Linked DNA regions of Homo sapiens: region 1 is linked to region 2. The links come from fine-mapping of genetic effects on gene expression. Tissue or cell type: tibial artery. Region 2 holds a variant in brackets; the other region holds the start of a gene. All regions are shown on one strand. Distances are from middle to middle.

The links. PIP is the estimated chance that this variant, and not a neighbour inherited with it, causes the effect.
Region 1: it holds the start of HGSNAT, and the variant in region 2 is fine-mapped to the expression of HGSNAT in tibial artery (GTEx, PIP 0.98). The same link has a PIP of 0.9 or more in thyroid.

What each region holds. Positions count from the first base shown.
Region 1 is chr8:43,135,489-43,143,630 of GRCh38, reverse strand. It overlaps HGSNAT (heparan-alpha-glucosaminide N-acetyltransferase), which reads right to left and starts at 3,167. Exons shown (of 18, transcript NM_152419.3): 1 at 3,017-3,167. The coding sequence starts at 3,134. RefSeq lists silencers at 2,188-2,567, 2,578-3,367 and an enhancer at 4,211-4,505.
Region 2 is chr8:42,964,517-42,972,516 of GRCh38, reverse strand. HOOK3 (hook microtubule tethering protein 3) reads right to left here. Exons shown (of 22, transcript NM_032410.4): 10 at 5,904-6,044; 11 at 4,303-4,504. Among named protein-coding and RNA genes, the nearest start is that of HOOK3, 72 kb to the right of the region's middle. The variant C/A (reference allele first, on the strand shown) is at 4,180.

The DNA of each region.
Region 1 (8,142 bases), 170 kb before region 2:
AGGAGGCGGAGCTTGCAGTGAGCTGAGTTCGCACCACTGCACTCCAGCCTGGGCGACAGAGCGAGACTCTGTCTCAAAAAAAAAAAAAAGAAAGAAAGAAATAGCTCCTGGTGTCTCCATTTTGGGATGAGGCATCTGAGGCCTGAAGAGGTCAAGCAGCTTGCCCAAAGTCACCTACTAGCAGCCAGGATTTAAGCTGAGGTCAGTCTAACTGTGCACATAACGGCTAACCAGTCTCCTGAGCCTCAACAGATCCCTCCCTATAAGCCCAGCCAGATTAGCCTTTCCATGTTTCCCTCATATGTTAGCCTGGTGGATAGAAAATGGCACGTCCTAATTATTTTAGTTTTGAATTTGTGATTAACAAGTTTGAACATGTTTTCCAAATGTTTACCATCAGTATGTGACTTTCATATTAATTCCTGAATCATTTATTTATTTAACCACCTTTATTTAATCCCTGACACCTTCTGAGGTATTTGCATAACTTCTCTACATTAAAGACAAAAATATTAAATCCTTTGTCAATTTGTCATCGTTTTAAAATAGTTCTTTTTCATTTCCCTTCTTCAGTTTTAATGGCTTCCATTTTCACATTTCTAGTCACTCTCTGTAGACTTTTTCCTACACTTGATCATACCCAAGAGACCATGAAGCCATGAGCTTTTCCTTCGTAATTTCTCCACACATCATCATCCCTTCGTAGATGGAATAAGTACTGTGTGTACTCATGTTTCTCTAAGCCTTTGGTGGTGGGCGGAATAAGGTACTTGTTTTATACTTAGATTATCCACACGAATTTTAGGCTGAAAGCTCTTCATTGTCATTGTTACTAACTATGCTATTTGGGAATGTGCAGAGGGGCTCAGTCTTCATTGAATGTCAAAATTACCTGAGGAAGCTCTAAAAAAACTACAAAAGTTACCAATGCCCTGGCCCCATTCCAGACCAATTAAATCAGAATCTCTGCCCAATCAGCATGATTTTTTTAATTTCCCACAAAAAACAACGAACCTCCCAAAGGGATTCGAGTGTGCAGCCGAGGGTGAAGACCACAGCTAGGGAACCACAGCTAGAGACTGTCAGAGTAACGCCAGCGGATTTTGACACCTTTTTTTTTCACTTTGCATTATTTGAATGTGGTTTTTAAAAATAATAATAACAGTCTGTATCACTTACAGACACGACCAAAGGACCCAATTACTAAGCCATCAAATAAGTCATCAAATATGACCTCGAAACTGAGCTTGATGTTCAGCTTCAAGAAAAAGCTGTCACCTTCCCACACAGCAGCTGACCTAAGAAATTCCAGGGCAATACCCCCAGAGCGTTACAGACAAAAGAACAATTATTTCCTTCTCTCTCCTCTGGTCTACCTCGTCTTGGTGGGCAAATTACCAAATAAAGTCACCTTCCAATGGTGCGGGGATAAATGTGCTGCTTGTGTATTACACCTTTATTTCCTTTCCAAATATTTAATTTCTGGTCTAGCTCTCTGCTCGTGAGTTATCTTTGCTGGGCATATTTTTAAAGACATAGTCTACTTTTTTTTTTCTTCAAGCAAATGCTGAATTTTCAAAAAGAAGGAAGATGATGACGTTTTTAGTAGGAAAGCTGTGCGGCCCAAACATGGGCTCCAGGTGACAGGGAAAGCCTTGCGGTCCCAACGCGGCTTCCCCTCACTACGTGTGATTACTATTTACAAACCACCTCTCTCTAAAAGTAAGTGCCCTTTGATAAGCTAATACTGGCGCTAAAATGCAAAGAGTGTTCGGCGGGATCAGTCCCTGACAAATTGTGATCAGGCAGATTACATAACCTCCCCGGGGTCCTTGCAATTTTAAAGGAGGGGAGCGCAGGAGATGAAGGTTGGGTGGATCAAGGATCGCACAAAATGTAATCCTCTGAGCCGCTTTTCCAAAATTCACAACGCCTTTCTCCTCCAGCTTCTGCTTGGAGAGGAGGGGTCGTTTGAACTCCATACACAGACACTAAAACTTCGTATTCTGACCAAGAAAAGGGCGCGAGAGGGGAAAGACAGGTGACTCCCACCGTCCCTCCTACCCAAAGGGGTTTGCGATGCTTGCCCGACCCCTCTGGGAGGGGCGTGTGCGAAGGACCTAGGGCCTGGGGCTCCCCGGTGCAGGGGTCTAGATGGAGACCTGGAATCTGTATTTGTCACCGTTTTCCCCACCGAGTTCGGAGAGCAAGCCAGTTGTGCAATCACGGTATGAGCTGAGCGCCTCTTAAGCCAGCGCACCGGACAAACGCCCGGGGTCCGGGGCCCGGGGCAAAAGCGCCCAGCCCGGCCCCTCCCAGGCGGCGGCGGCGGCGGCGGCGGCTTCCCAGTCACCCTGGAGGGAAAACGCGCCGAGGGGAGACGCGCGGAGGGCTCGCCCGGGACCGGGCTGCAGGCCGCGCCCCCACCGCCTTCTCCGCGGTTCCTCACCCGCCGCACATCCACGCAGGTTCAACCCCAGCGCGGGGCGAACGCGCGTCCCGGCCCCAGGCTTCCCACCCGCTGAAGCCAATGGGTCGCACGGCTCCGGCGCCACGTCCTCGGGGGCGAGGCCCTCAGGGAAGGGACCCTGCTCTAAGTCCCTCCGAACAGTGGACTGGGTGCAGGGGGAGTCCGAGCCCCCCCGATCCTCGGCTGGCCCGCCTCCTGGCTGCCAGTTTGTGGGGTCCCGGCGTCCCGATCCGCGGCCTCTGTTTAGACGGAAGGCGCCAGGACGCAGGCTCCGCTGGGGTGGGCGCCGCCTGGGCGCCCAGGTTCCACTCCGCCGCGGTCCGAACCGCCCCCTCCCCCGCCTCCGCGGGGCCCGGCCGCAGCACCCCGAAGTCCGGCCTCCGGTCTGGGGCGCGGGACCGCGAAGTCGCAGCAACAGCCCAGGCCACGGGGGCGGTTCCGGCCCGGCCTAGCGCTCGGCGCCGCGCACGGAGATAGGGGCGGCGCCGCGGAGAGGAGACGCTGCGCTCGTAGCCGGCCGGGCGGCGGTAGGAGGTGTGCACTCACCTCGTGGCGGCGCGGCCTGGGCATCGCGCCCCGAAGAGCCGCCGGGGGCCAGCAGCGCGGCGCTCAGCACGGACGCGGCCAGCAGCAGCGCGGCCAGCGCCCTGCCCGCCCCGCTCATGCCCGCCGCCCGCTCGGCCGCCCTTGCCTGCCCGCTGCGCCCCGCCCTGCGCTGCTCCGCCGCGGACGCCCGCGCGCCCGTCATCGCCCCCTCCGCTGCCGTCACCGCCGCCTGAGTCACCGCGGGAGGCGGAGGCGCCCGGGAGCCGCGGGCGGGGGAACCTAGGGGCTGGGCCGGGCCATGCTAGGCCCTGCCTTGAGGGAGCTGGCCAGGAAAGAAGCCGAGGCTCTGCGCCCCTGCGTTGGGAGTGTTTGTCTTCGGGAGGAAAAACAGCCGGAAGAGAGGCCCCTGCAGGCCAGGAGCCTTCTTCCCTCGCCCCACCTTCTCCAGCCGCATTCTGCCAAACTCCCGCCCCCGCCGGCCACCCTCCGCACGGGTGTTAGAGCCCTCGGTCCCTGTTTTGGAAAACGCCTCAATAAGCAAGACTGCAAAGTCCCTGCCCCCAAGGCGTTTATTACCCAGAGGGAGAGGCACGACTTAGAAGCCACCAAGCGGCCCCACCTCTTGAAAGAGCCCCCGGCCAGGCTGACGAAGTGGAAGGGAGCAGGTCGAGGAGTGTGCACACCCATTCTTGGCTGTATGCCGGGAGACACTATCGCAGGTATAAGGGACAGGTACAGTAATACCTATAGCAGAGGTGCTTGTAATTGCAAAACCTTGTCAACAAGCTGAATGTCCGCCAGCGAGAAAACAAACTGCCCCACAGCAGGGGAAGTGCTCTACAGCTTCCCGCATCCACATGGATAAATCTCAAAACACAAGGCTGGGGAAAATGCAAATTGCAGAATGCCTTTTTAATATATAAAGCAAAACAATAATGTATGTTGTTTAGGGACATCCATATATGTAATAAAAATACAAAGGCACACATGAAAATGTTGCGGGACTTTTCCTTAGTTCAGCTAAAGACGGTGGAGGTCCTTGTCACACGCCAGGAAAGATTAGGCTCGCAGACAATTTGAAGGGTAAGGCAGGGTTTTATTGGGTGTAAAGGAAGAAAAAGGGGAACAGGGACTCAGCAGAGCCAGAGTTCTCCTAGTTGTAGGCTTCCCACCTCACAGATTAAATCCCAGGTTCTCCCGAGGAAGAGGAGGGCCAGGCTCCTCCCAGCTGCAAACTGAGGAGCGAACTTCTGTGGCTCCACCCCAGAGCAGTGCACAGGCCAGTTGGAGTTTTACCAGGGAACCCTTCCCATCTGGCTCATTCCTCGCTCTAAAGAAGTCTATCTAACTGCCACTAGGATAAGAATAGGGACAAAGACAGATCTTAACTGCTTCCTGCTGATAGGGGGCACTGTTTCGGGAAAATGGCAATCAGATCTCCCTCAGAGGCCTATCTAAGGGTGCCCAGCAGAAGGGGCCATGGTCCGAGCTTCCAGTAGCATGACCGTTTGATGTCCTGAAGGCAAGAAGAGACAAACTGGGTTATTAAACACATATGGCCGGGCACAGTGGCTCACGCCTGTAATCCCAGCACTTTGGGAGGCCAAGGCAGGTGGATCACGAGGTCAAGAAATCGAGACCATCCTGGCCAACATGGTGAAACCCTGTCACTACTAAAAATACAAAAAATTAGCCGGGCGTCATGGCAAGTACCTGTAGTCCCAGCTACTTGGGAGGCTGAGGCAGGAGAATCACTTGAATCCGGGAGGCAGAGTTTGCAGTGAGCCAAGATTATGCCACTGCACTCCAGCCTGGCAGGTCAGGAGTTCAAGACCAGCCTGGCCAACATGGTGAAACCCTGTCTCTACTAAAAATACAAAAATTAGCCAGCAGTGGTGGTGCCTGCCTGTACTCCCAGCTACTTAGGAGGTTGAGGCAGGAGAATCGTTTGAACGGAGGTTGCAGTGAGCCAAGACCACATCACTGCACTCCAGCCTGGGCGACAGAGTGAGACCCTGTCTCAAAAAAAAAAAGAAAAGAAAAGAAACAAGGGGAGGGATAAGGACAGCTCAAAAATCCTGAGGCTTTTTACCAATTTGTACACGGAGAAGGGGGCCAAAAGTCCGAATGGTAAACAACTTTACCCTTTTGCTGGCATGTTGGGCTTCTGGGTTCCCTTCCCCTGAAACCAATCCTAAGCCAGCCAGTTTAAGGTTTAGGAAATTAACTCTTTCCAGTTTGGAAAATGCATCTGAGGGGAGTGTCCCATAGTATGGAGACACAATTAGGATTGTCATTGTGAACCGAGGAGGAGAAAGGAAAAAAGAAGGCATTTTTTCAAAGGAATCCGAAGGGTTCCAGATGCATTTGAAAGTGGTGCAGACTGAAGATAAATGGCTACCCACATAGAAAGAGGGGAGCAGGCATCCCTGGTTCTTTTCCTAGCAAATACCTGGGGTACGTGAGGGATAGAAGGAATAGCGTCCTCTTCCATCCTTGCATCCCCATGCAACCTTCGAAAGTGCTACCATGGGTGCCAAAATGGCTTGCATCCATGAAGCAGGGGTCTAGAGGGTGGGAATTATCTCCTCTACCCATGAATGCCCTATCACCCCTGCTGTCAGTAGTCTTGGAGTTCCCTAGACCTCACTTATGCTCAGGGGTTGAGGGGTTGCATGGACTCCTTCTCGTAAGCCAAATGCTAAGGAAAAACTGTGGAACTGAGTCCTCCAACAAGGGAGAGAAAAGGATGTCTTGTGACACACCCAGATAACTGGTGGCTACAGTTATGTTTGGTAGGATTTGGGTGCATGGTGCTTGGCTTTGGTTAGCTCCCTTGGTCTTACTTTCCCAAAAGGAAACCTCTGGATGATGGGCACCCTATTTATTCCCATTGCCTAGCAGAATTTGCAGGATAATTGCTCATAACTAGAATACTAATCCAGATTTTTTTACATTACCCATCCCTCTTGTTCTTTCTGAGCTGCAGCTGGAGATTGCTGGTTGGTTCACAAGCAGGGTCAGTCTAAAAATGCAGGCAAAAATTTAAAAACAACTGAGTTTAGAATTGAATGACAAATTATGGTAAGTTTTGGAACATAATTTTTCTCCAGGCCTCGTTTTTGTTAAAAAAAAAAAAAAGAAAAGAAAGAAAAGAAAAGAAATTATGATAGGACTCAGTTGTTTGCAAAATAGACTTCAGTCTTATACTTGGCCTGATTATTTACATAAAGTGCAGCAAGAATAATTATTTCTACAAAGGCCTTTTGGACTGGCTTTGATGGAACTCTGTTCCACAAGGAATCTCAGATAAGATAAAGCCAAGCCCAGCCATGAACTGGGCTAATCCTCTCCTCTTAAGTTCCCATGATACACCTTGGGTTGGGTGATCCTCTCCTCTTAAGGTCCCAGGATAAACTTGGAGCTCCTGGACCTGTTAGCAAGTGACATTCTTTACTGACCACAGGTCAGGAACCCTGTACAGGGACTGTGTAGACAAGAGTATGAGGCCAACTTCCCCACTGGGCTTTTATTGGCCCTGCAAGTCGAGATTGATTCTTTAAACAGAAGCATAGCCTTCCAGTGAAAGCCTCGGGAAAATAACCAGTTTTTCCAATTGCGTCTTGTTAACAAAAGATAAATGGATTCCTATCACACCGATCCAGACAACTATATTGCCACAAGTTAAAAATACTCACAGATAGTTTCCAGATTCTAGAGGAACCAGGCCGGGCGCAGTGGCTCACAGCTAATCCCAATACTTTGGAAGGCCAAGGCAGGCAGATCACTTGAGGTCAGGAGTTCGAGACCAGGCTGGACAACATAGTGAAACCCCATCTCTACTAAAAATACAAAAACTACCTGGGCATGGTGGCCCGCGCCTGTAGTCCCAGCTACTCAGGAGGCTGTGGCAGGAGAATCGCTTGAGCCAGGGAAGCGGAGGTTGCAGTGGGCCAAGATCCCTCCACTGTAGTCCAGCCTGGGCGAAAGAGTAACAGTCTGTCCACAAAAAAAAAGGAACCAGGCAAAGAGAAACAAGCATGCTCCAAATCTTGTCCACAGGAGTATACCTCAGTCAATTATTAAAGACCATAAATAGTTTAAAATAAGTTTCCCTGACTCTGAAAAACAAAACAAGGATCAACAATATTCCCAGCAAAAGTCAAAAAGTTTGCTTCAGCTTTGAGTTCAGTCCATTTAGTTCTTGTTTTGCTTGATATTCGTGAACACTTCAGCTCTTTATGAATCCTGTACATTTGCCTTTATTCCAATGTGACAATCTCCAAAGTTATCAGAAACCTGTATTTGAGAGTACCTGCCAGAGTCCTATTGCTTATTATAAACCATCTTTTGAAAATGATTAAAACAAGACAACAATTGTCTGTGACTAGCCAAATGTCCAGGTTAGTTGCAGTTAGAAACACAATTGACAAAGAAGTTTGGCTATCTCTGTGGTTTACAATAACTTAACAACCTTAATTATGGTTGATAGCATATACTTAGACATTAGAGTTTTAGAAATCCCATATAATTTTGGAACATACATTAGCATTATTCACAAAAATATAACCTAAAGAAAACTGAACATCATTTTGGCAATCCCATGTACCTAAACATGTCAAATGATCCTGTTTACCTATTTCTTGGATATTTCAGGGGCACTCCAAACGGTCCAAAAAGCCAAACATCAGGAAAGACAATTTTGAAACTGAAGTTTGATTTGGGAAGGCTGTTAAATATGTTCGAGGTTTAAAGCACTTGATGTTATGAAACAGAATTCCAGATTACCATAAGTTATTTATTTTGCCAAAATGATGACTCAGAAATTTTAAAGAAGCAAAAATCTTTTATAACCCCTTACAAATTTTGCTGAAGAGCAGATCAGTGCCTTAAGAATACCTTGTTGTGCTTTTATTTCAATGCTCAATTTACAGAAAAATCATATAATACCCTTTGAAATTTAGTCAATATGTTCACATAGAAAACCCCTTTGCAAGATTAATTTCCACAATGCTTCCACCACTTGTTTGAACCTGCAACTTCATCCTAATTTAAAACAATCCTTTAACCCTAGGCAAAAATTTACATTTCCATGCCTTCTTATAACCTTTTACAAAAAAACACAT
Region 2 (8,000 bases):
TCACTTGAGCCCAGGAGTTCAAGATTGCAGTGAGCTATGATCATACCATTGCACTCCAGCCTAGGAAACAGAGTGAGATCCTGTCTTTAAAAAAAAAGTAAGAAAGAAAAAAGGGGTAACTTGGAAGTTTGTAATGACAGCCTGTTAATAATACATGGACTTGTGTTTGAATTTTTACTACTTGCATTGTCTGGGAAAACCTAAGCCAAGCAATTAGAGGGGTATTAGCTGGTAATGCTGTGGAAAATCTGCCATAAACAAACACACATATTGACCACAGAAACAAAACCTCAACCCATGAGCCTCAGGATTCCCCAATGTAAAGATGAGCTAATGAAAGAGCAAAATCCAAAATTACAAAGGCCATAAAGAAAATGCCACAACGAACAAGACTCTATGGAAAACATTAACAGCAATAACAACCAAAAAATAACAGAATAAGATCTCCAAGGATTTCAGATTGGAATTATCAGATACAAAATATACATACTTAAAAAAGTAAAGAGGAAATCTAAATTTTAAAAGGAGTTAAGAGGCCAGGCACGGCGGCTCACACCTGTAAGCCTAGCACTTTGGGTGACTGAGGTGGGCAGATTGCCTGAGCTCAGAAGTTCCAGATCACCCTGGGGGCAACATGGTGAAACCCTGTATCCACTAAAATATGAAAATTTAGCCGGGCTTGGTGGTGCACTCCTGTAATCCCAGCTACTCGGGAGACTGTGGCAGGAGAATTGCTTGAACCCGGGAGGTGGAGGTTGCAGTGAGCTGAGATTGCACCACTGCACTCCAACCTGGGCCACAGAGCCAGACTCTGCCTCAAAATAAATAAATTAATTAATAAAATAAAAAACAAAAAGGAGTAAGAGACCATCAAAAATAACCAGGGAGATTTGAAAAAGCACACAAAGAAGGCTTGTAGATGAAATATTATCATTTAAAAAATAAAGTGGCCAGGCACAGTGGCTCACGCCTGTAATCCCAGCACTTTGGGAGGCCAAGGCAGGTGGATCACCTGAAGTCAGAAGTTCAAGACCAGCCTGGCCAACATAGTGACACCCTGTCTCTACTAAAAATACACAAAAATTAGCCAGGCATGGTGGCAGGTGCCTGTAATCCCAGCTACTCGGGAGGCTGAGGCAGGAGAATCGCTTGAACCTGGGAGGTGGAGGTTGCGATAAGCTGAGATCGCACCACTGCACTCTAGCCTGAGCGACAGAGCGAGACTCTGACTCTGTCTCCAGAAAACAAAAACAAAAACAAAAAACACACAACATATAGCAATCTTTGTAATATACTGGCAAAATAAAACATTCTGTATGTAATCAACAAGGAATGCTTTCCCACCATTATTTTTACTCCAAGTTGTACTGAAGTCCAGTTATGCTGATTAAGAAGAAAAAAAAGGATATGGAATAGAAAGGGAGAAATTGGGCTGGGTGCAGCGGCTCACACCTATAATCCCAGCACTTTGGGAGGCCGAGGCAGGAGGATGTCTTGAGCCCAGGTATTTGAGACCGGCCTGGGCAACATGGAGAAACCCCAATTCTACAAAAATTACAAAATTAGCTGAGTGTGGCGGCACACACTTGTGGTCCTAGCTATTTGGCAGGCTGAGATGGAAGGATCACCTGAGCCTGGGGGGTCGAGGCTGCAGTGAGCCATGACTGCACCACTGCACTCTAGCCTGGATGACAGAGTGAAACCCTGTCTCAGAAAAAAAAAAAAAAAAAAAAAGACCCAAATTCCTTTTATTTCTTTACTATATCCCTTCTGACAAGAGAATCTACAGACATTATCAGAAGTAATATGAGAATTTGGCAAGGTTGCAGAATCAACATATAAAAGTCAATTTCATTCATATAAATTAGCAATAAAGTGAAAATGGAATCTATCTAACTGCATTTAAAAAGCAACCCCAAACACAAAAGTACCCAACAGTAACTACAATGAAATATGCACAAAATCTTTAGAAGAACATTAATAAACTTAACCCAAAGACATGGAAGACCACGGAAAGGTATCATGTTCAGACAGAAACAGCTCTCCCCAAATTGATCGACAGTCAATGTAATTCCAATTCCCAAGAGTTTGGAGTTTAAAGGGAAAGCAAAGGGCTGAGAACAGACACTTTTGAAAAAGGACAAAGTATGAGAGTCTGCACTACCACCTATCAAAATTGCTAAAAATTTGTAAAACATGAGTGTGATATTGGTGTAGGAAGAGATAAATATACCAAGGGAACAGAAGAAAGTGTCCAGAAATAAACCCATATACAACATGGATATTTTAGATATACAAGGTAGAATTGCAGGTCATTGTGGAAGAAAGGACTATTAAATAAATGGTGGTAGGCTGACTGGTTATCCACACAGACAAAAAGAGTCTCAAAGGGATCCCTACTTCACACCCTACACAAAAATTAATTCCAAGTGGATTAAATACCTAAATGTGCAAAACAAACTTTAAATCTTTGTAAAGAAAATAGAGAAGATTAGACTATAACCTTATATAGGAAATAATTTCTTAAAATATAAAAAGTACAAATCATAAAAGTACTTTAAGTTCATTATGCTGAAATTATCAACCTCAAAAAAGTAAAAGGACAAGTCATAGATCCATAGGAGATTAAGTAAAAATATGTGCAAGTGATAAAGAACATCTAGAACATATAAACAACCTTTAGAAATCAGTAAAAGAAATGATTCAATTTTTTAAGTGGGTAAAAGATAAAAATAGGAAATTTACAAAAGAAATATGGTCAGTAAATATATTTGTAATCAGGGTAACATGAAGTATAATTAAAAGGAGACACCATTTTATACCCATCTAATTGGCAAATTTTACTTATTTTTCTTTTCTCAAGACAAGGTCTTACATGTCTCATGTTGCCAGCAGAGTCACATGCGGCACAAAAGCAAAGCTGGAATGCAGTGGTGCAATCATAGCTCACTGTAGCCTCTGAGGCCCAGGCTCAAGCGATTCTTCAACCTCATCCTCCCAAATAGCTGGGACCACAGGTTCATGCCACCATGCCCAGCTAACTTAAAGTTATTTTTAGAGATGGGGTCTTGCTATGTTTCCCAGGTTGGTTTGGAACTCCTGGGCTCAAGCCACTCTCCTGCCTCAGCCTCCCAAAGTGTTGAGATTACAGGCGTGAGACACTGTGCCAGGCCAGCAAAATTTAGTTTGCCAATACTGTGTGCTGGTGATGATGTGAAGCAACAGGAATATAAACTGCTTGTTGGTAGCACAATCACTTTAAGGAACAATCTGCTAATATCTAACTACATTGAAGATACTCTTAGACAGAAAGTCCATCAAGTTGTAAAACCTTCACACATATATAGTAGAGGACCTGTACAATACTATTTATATGGCATTTCTTTTAACATAGAAAAAAAAGCTGAAACATCCTGTAGGTCTCTTAACAGGAAAATAGATAAATTTTGGTACAGAGACTAACTGAGAGAGCAGCAGAAATGAATGTTATAAAGCTATACCTATCATGATAAACAAGTCTCACTGAGCAAAAGAAAAAAAAATTACAAAGAGTGCTTTCACTGTATCATTTATATAAAGTTCTGGAACATGTCAAAGTGCTATAAATTTTTAGGGATAAATATATATATGTAGCAAAAGTATAGAGAGACGAATGGGAATGAAAGCCGCAGCATGGAGGCTGCCTGTAACGAGGAGGGGGAGAGCATGTTTTATTCAAGCATGAATATTTACTGAACTATGCTTTTACATTTGTATATTTCTTAAGTATTACCTAATAAATAACTAACTAAATAAAAATAAGTAAATAAAATAAAAGTACCTGCTATGGAGAGTTTAAAGCTCTTTAAATATTAGATAAATATAAATAAATACAATAGGCCAGGCATGGTGGCTCACAGTGGCTCACGCTTGTAATCCTAGCACTTTGGAAGGCTGAGGCTGGTGGATCACTTGAGCTCAGGAGTACAAGACCAGCCTGGGCAACACAGTGAAACCCTGTCTTTACCAAAATACAAAAAATTAGCCAGGTGTGGCAGCATGCGTCTGTAGTTCCAGCTACTCAGGAGGCTGGGGCAGAAGAATAGCTTGAACCTGGGAGGTGGAGGTTGCAGTGAGCTGAGATCATGCCACTGCACTCCAGGCTGGGTGACAGAGTGAGACTCAGTCTCCTAAATGAAT[C/A]AATACAATAAAGAAAAGGTAAAAAACAGAATACCATGAAAACAAATTAGTAATTTTGGTAAGCTACATGTCATAACTGAGAGCTTGCCTGAAACCATCATCAAGATGCTGTGTTTCTTTTACCTGTCTCTTGTAGGTTTCAAGTTGACTTCGCGCTGCGTTGGCCTTTCTTAACTCTTCCTCTAGACTGACAGTATTCTGCATATACATGGTATTCTTCTCTTCTAAGAGTTTAACCTGCCGCCTTAAATCACCAAGGTCTTCTAGCTTCTTTTTATAAGATTCTACTTGACCTTCTAGTTTAGATACTTTATCAGAAGAATGTCTAGAATTAGATGGGAAATTAAAAAAATCAGAAACACATCCACACTTGTAAAGTTGTTTCAGTGTTAAGAAGGATTGCCAGGAAACACACATCTAATGAAATAAGACAAAAGTGATTCCAGGTTAATTTTCTGCACAGGTTAACAAATATGACCTAAGTTACAACTAAATGTTTAATGGAGAATAATAATTTAAGGAAACCAAGCAGGAGAGGGCAGCCAGCAGAGTCACATGTGGCACAAAAGAAAAGTAAGTTTAACAGTGTCCGAATAATTTGGCAATTATCAGTGACCACCAGAATAGCAGCTTCAGTGGGGTAGTGTGGGCAGATAGTGGGGTTGAGGAGAGAATGTCAATTTTACCTTATGTAATCTAAGTTTGGTTCTAGTGGGAAGGAGAGAGTAATAACTCCCTCTCTTTTTAAGATTAAAGAGACCTAAATGCGCGTGTGCATGTGTATGAAGGAGAGAGATTCAAAAGGCAAAAGAAATGAGGATTGATGTAACACAGTCCCCGCGTAGGCCAGAAAGGTAGAGGTCCAGAACACTGAAGAAGGAATTAGCCCTGAACAGGAGGAAGAATAACAGGTCTACACTCACTAAAGAAAGGGTGGGTGGGAACCCAGGGAAGTTTAGAGGTTTTGGAGACAAAAGACATGGAGAGTTCAGCAGTTCACGGCCTCTTTCTTCGCTGCTATAGGAGACAAGGTCATCTATTGAGACTAAGTCATGGGAGGTGTGTGTGGAGGGCAGCCGGGGAGTAGAATCCTGAGGAATCAGAATGGCTATGAGTGAGACAATGAGCAAGGGGAGGGCGGGCCATTGGGAAGAACCCAGCTCAGAAGGAAGCCACCAATTGGCAGGAGCACAAAACTATCAATTATGCATTTCCCCTGTTCTCAGTATTCAAAGAGCAAAAGTGGAAAATGTAGATGGTTGAGATAATCAACAGAGGATAGGAGACTGTACAAGCAGAGGGGTGAAAAAATGAGGTGACAGGGAGTGAGGCACCTCATGAGAGAACTGAAGGGGTAATAACAAGGCCCAGCAAGAAAATGAGGCCTTGCGGGCGTGGCGGAAGAACAGCTCCAGAGCTGTACAAGTAAGAAGTGATGGTCACAATTTCTATTTTACAAACACTTGTGTATCGCTTAATTGCCAGACACTGTTGCAAGTGTTTACAAATATAAATTCACTCAACTCCTCATATAAACCTGAGGTAGGCATGTGTATTGTTTCCATTTTGCAGATGAGAAAACAGCCATACAGAGGTTGCATAAGCAGTAGACCCGGGATCCCAGCCCAGGTAGCCTGGCTCTTAAGTTTGCTAGATCCTCAGAAACCCTAGAGTTTCTAACACCAGAGCCAAACTGTGCTGGGCGGTGAAGGTGAGGTTTTTACCTCAGCACGTCGATCTCATCTTTCAGAGACTGAGCTTCATCTGCCAAAGTGGTCAGTTCATCATTCTGTTGCCGAAGTTCAGAGATCTCCTTTTCTAACTCTTCACAACGTATTCGATAATCATCTTTGGCTGCTTCTAGTCTGTAACCGATATAAAATAGACCAAGAAAGCACTATTTACTGCCTCCTCATTCTCCTTAGAACAGTAAAAGAAAGATATAAAGCATGAGAATAAAGCCTTCTTGAGTATGTCTCCCATGTTAGTGGCCACAAGCTGCATTCTCAAGCACTAACTGTCATAAAAATGAACTCCACTGTCCCAAGTCTTGGGAACGGTGACAACTGGTTACTATTTCCCTACCAGAAAGCAAGACATCATGCAACATTTTTCTGAAATATTGCAGATACAATTTAAGGGCTTTTTTTATTATAAAATTAACACATATGGTCTGGCACAGTGGATTACAGTAATAAACCCATTATGTTAATAAAAACAACATACTCTTTATGAAAAATAACTATTTTCTAAAACAAAAAAAGTGAGAAGAGTGGCACTGTTTTATATTTTTGTGATTCTATTATCTGTTTTAATAGAAGACAGCTGGGTTCTCATATTTGTTTCTACATTCATCTGTTGGTGACATGTTGTTTTTTGGCTGAAGCATATGAAGAAAATCCAGCCTTGCAGACACATAGTCGGGAAAGAGAGGGTCTTGCAGATTCTCCAAAATGGTTATCAGAGGACCTCCAGGAGCCTCGACCATTCTTTGAACTGCTGACGTGGACCAAAGGGAATGGACTGTTTCTAAGGTTTCTAAGGAGCCTAAGAAAAGTTTATTACTTTTTCCTGTTAAGGTAAAAGAAAAAAAAAAATCCAGAAACATTTCACTGAGGAATAACAAGAATAGTTATGTTACCACACTCAGTTACTCAGTAAAGTAAAAATCTAATTGATGTTTAATTTCTGTTTTAACACTAGAAATCTATGGCTAGGGAAGAAACAAGTGATGACGCACTTTTTAGTAAACCGTAACAAAATATTTTCATCATACTCTTGTCTTTCGATTTTGTGCTTCCGTCTTATCTTGCAGGACATATTTTCCTTTTTCTTCTTTTTCCTTTCACCACCCAAAGGTCAAAGGGCCCTTCTTCCTTCCTTTTGGGCTTTTCTTCCCACAGAAGATGTCTGGAAGATTGTTCCTTTAAATCTCGCCTGTCCTTTTAAATCAGCTCACCCCTTTAAATAAGTCTATCTCTATAAACACACACATACACACACACACACGTATATAGATTTCTATAAGTCTATAAATGCATCTGTCTTTTAAAAATCCCTGCCTGTAACTTTTCATGTCATCTGGCCCTTCCCGAAGATGTGCTTATTTTGAAATCCCTAATCTGTGGTTTATGGTCTGCTCTGACCATTACTTTTCCAAACCAAAGTCATTTCAGATTTTCAGTGAAATTTAATCTTTCTGGTGATCATGTCAACTCGCCTTCAGGCCCCTTCACAAATGTTCTTCCTCGGTCTTTCTTGAAAGTTTCCTCAGTCGCCTTTGTTTCCCACAGAGGGGCAGGTGTGGGGTACTCCCTCTCACTCAGGTATCCTATAGTTGCGGCATTCTGCCTTCAAACAATAAGGAGGGTGGCGCTCTGATAGAACACTTCCTAGACGTGAAGTAGTTTCATGTTGTGTGAGGAGATTCTGAGTTGTTTATTTGGAGCCTCAATGGACTGCAGTTTCCCAGAAGTCCTAACATTATATTTTTTTTTTCTTTTTTTTTTTTGAGACAAAGTCGCGTTCTGTTGCCCAGGCTGGGGTGCAGTGGCACGATCTCGGCTCACCGAAATCTCCACACCCCCAGTTCACGCGATTCTCATTTCTCAGCCTCCCGAGTAGCTAGGATTACAGGCACCTGCCATCATGCCTGGCTAATTTTTGTATTTTTAGTAGAGATGGGGTTTCCTCATGTTAGCCAAGCTGATTTTGAATCCCCGACCTCAAGTGATCAGCCCGCCTCAGCCTCCCAAAGTGCTGGGATTCCAGGCATGGACCAATGTGCCTGGCCAATATACTCTTAACTTTAAATGACAGCT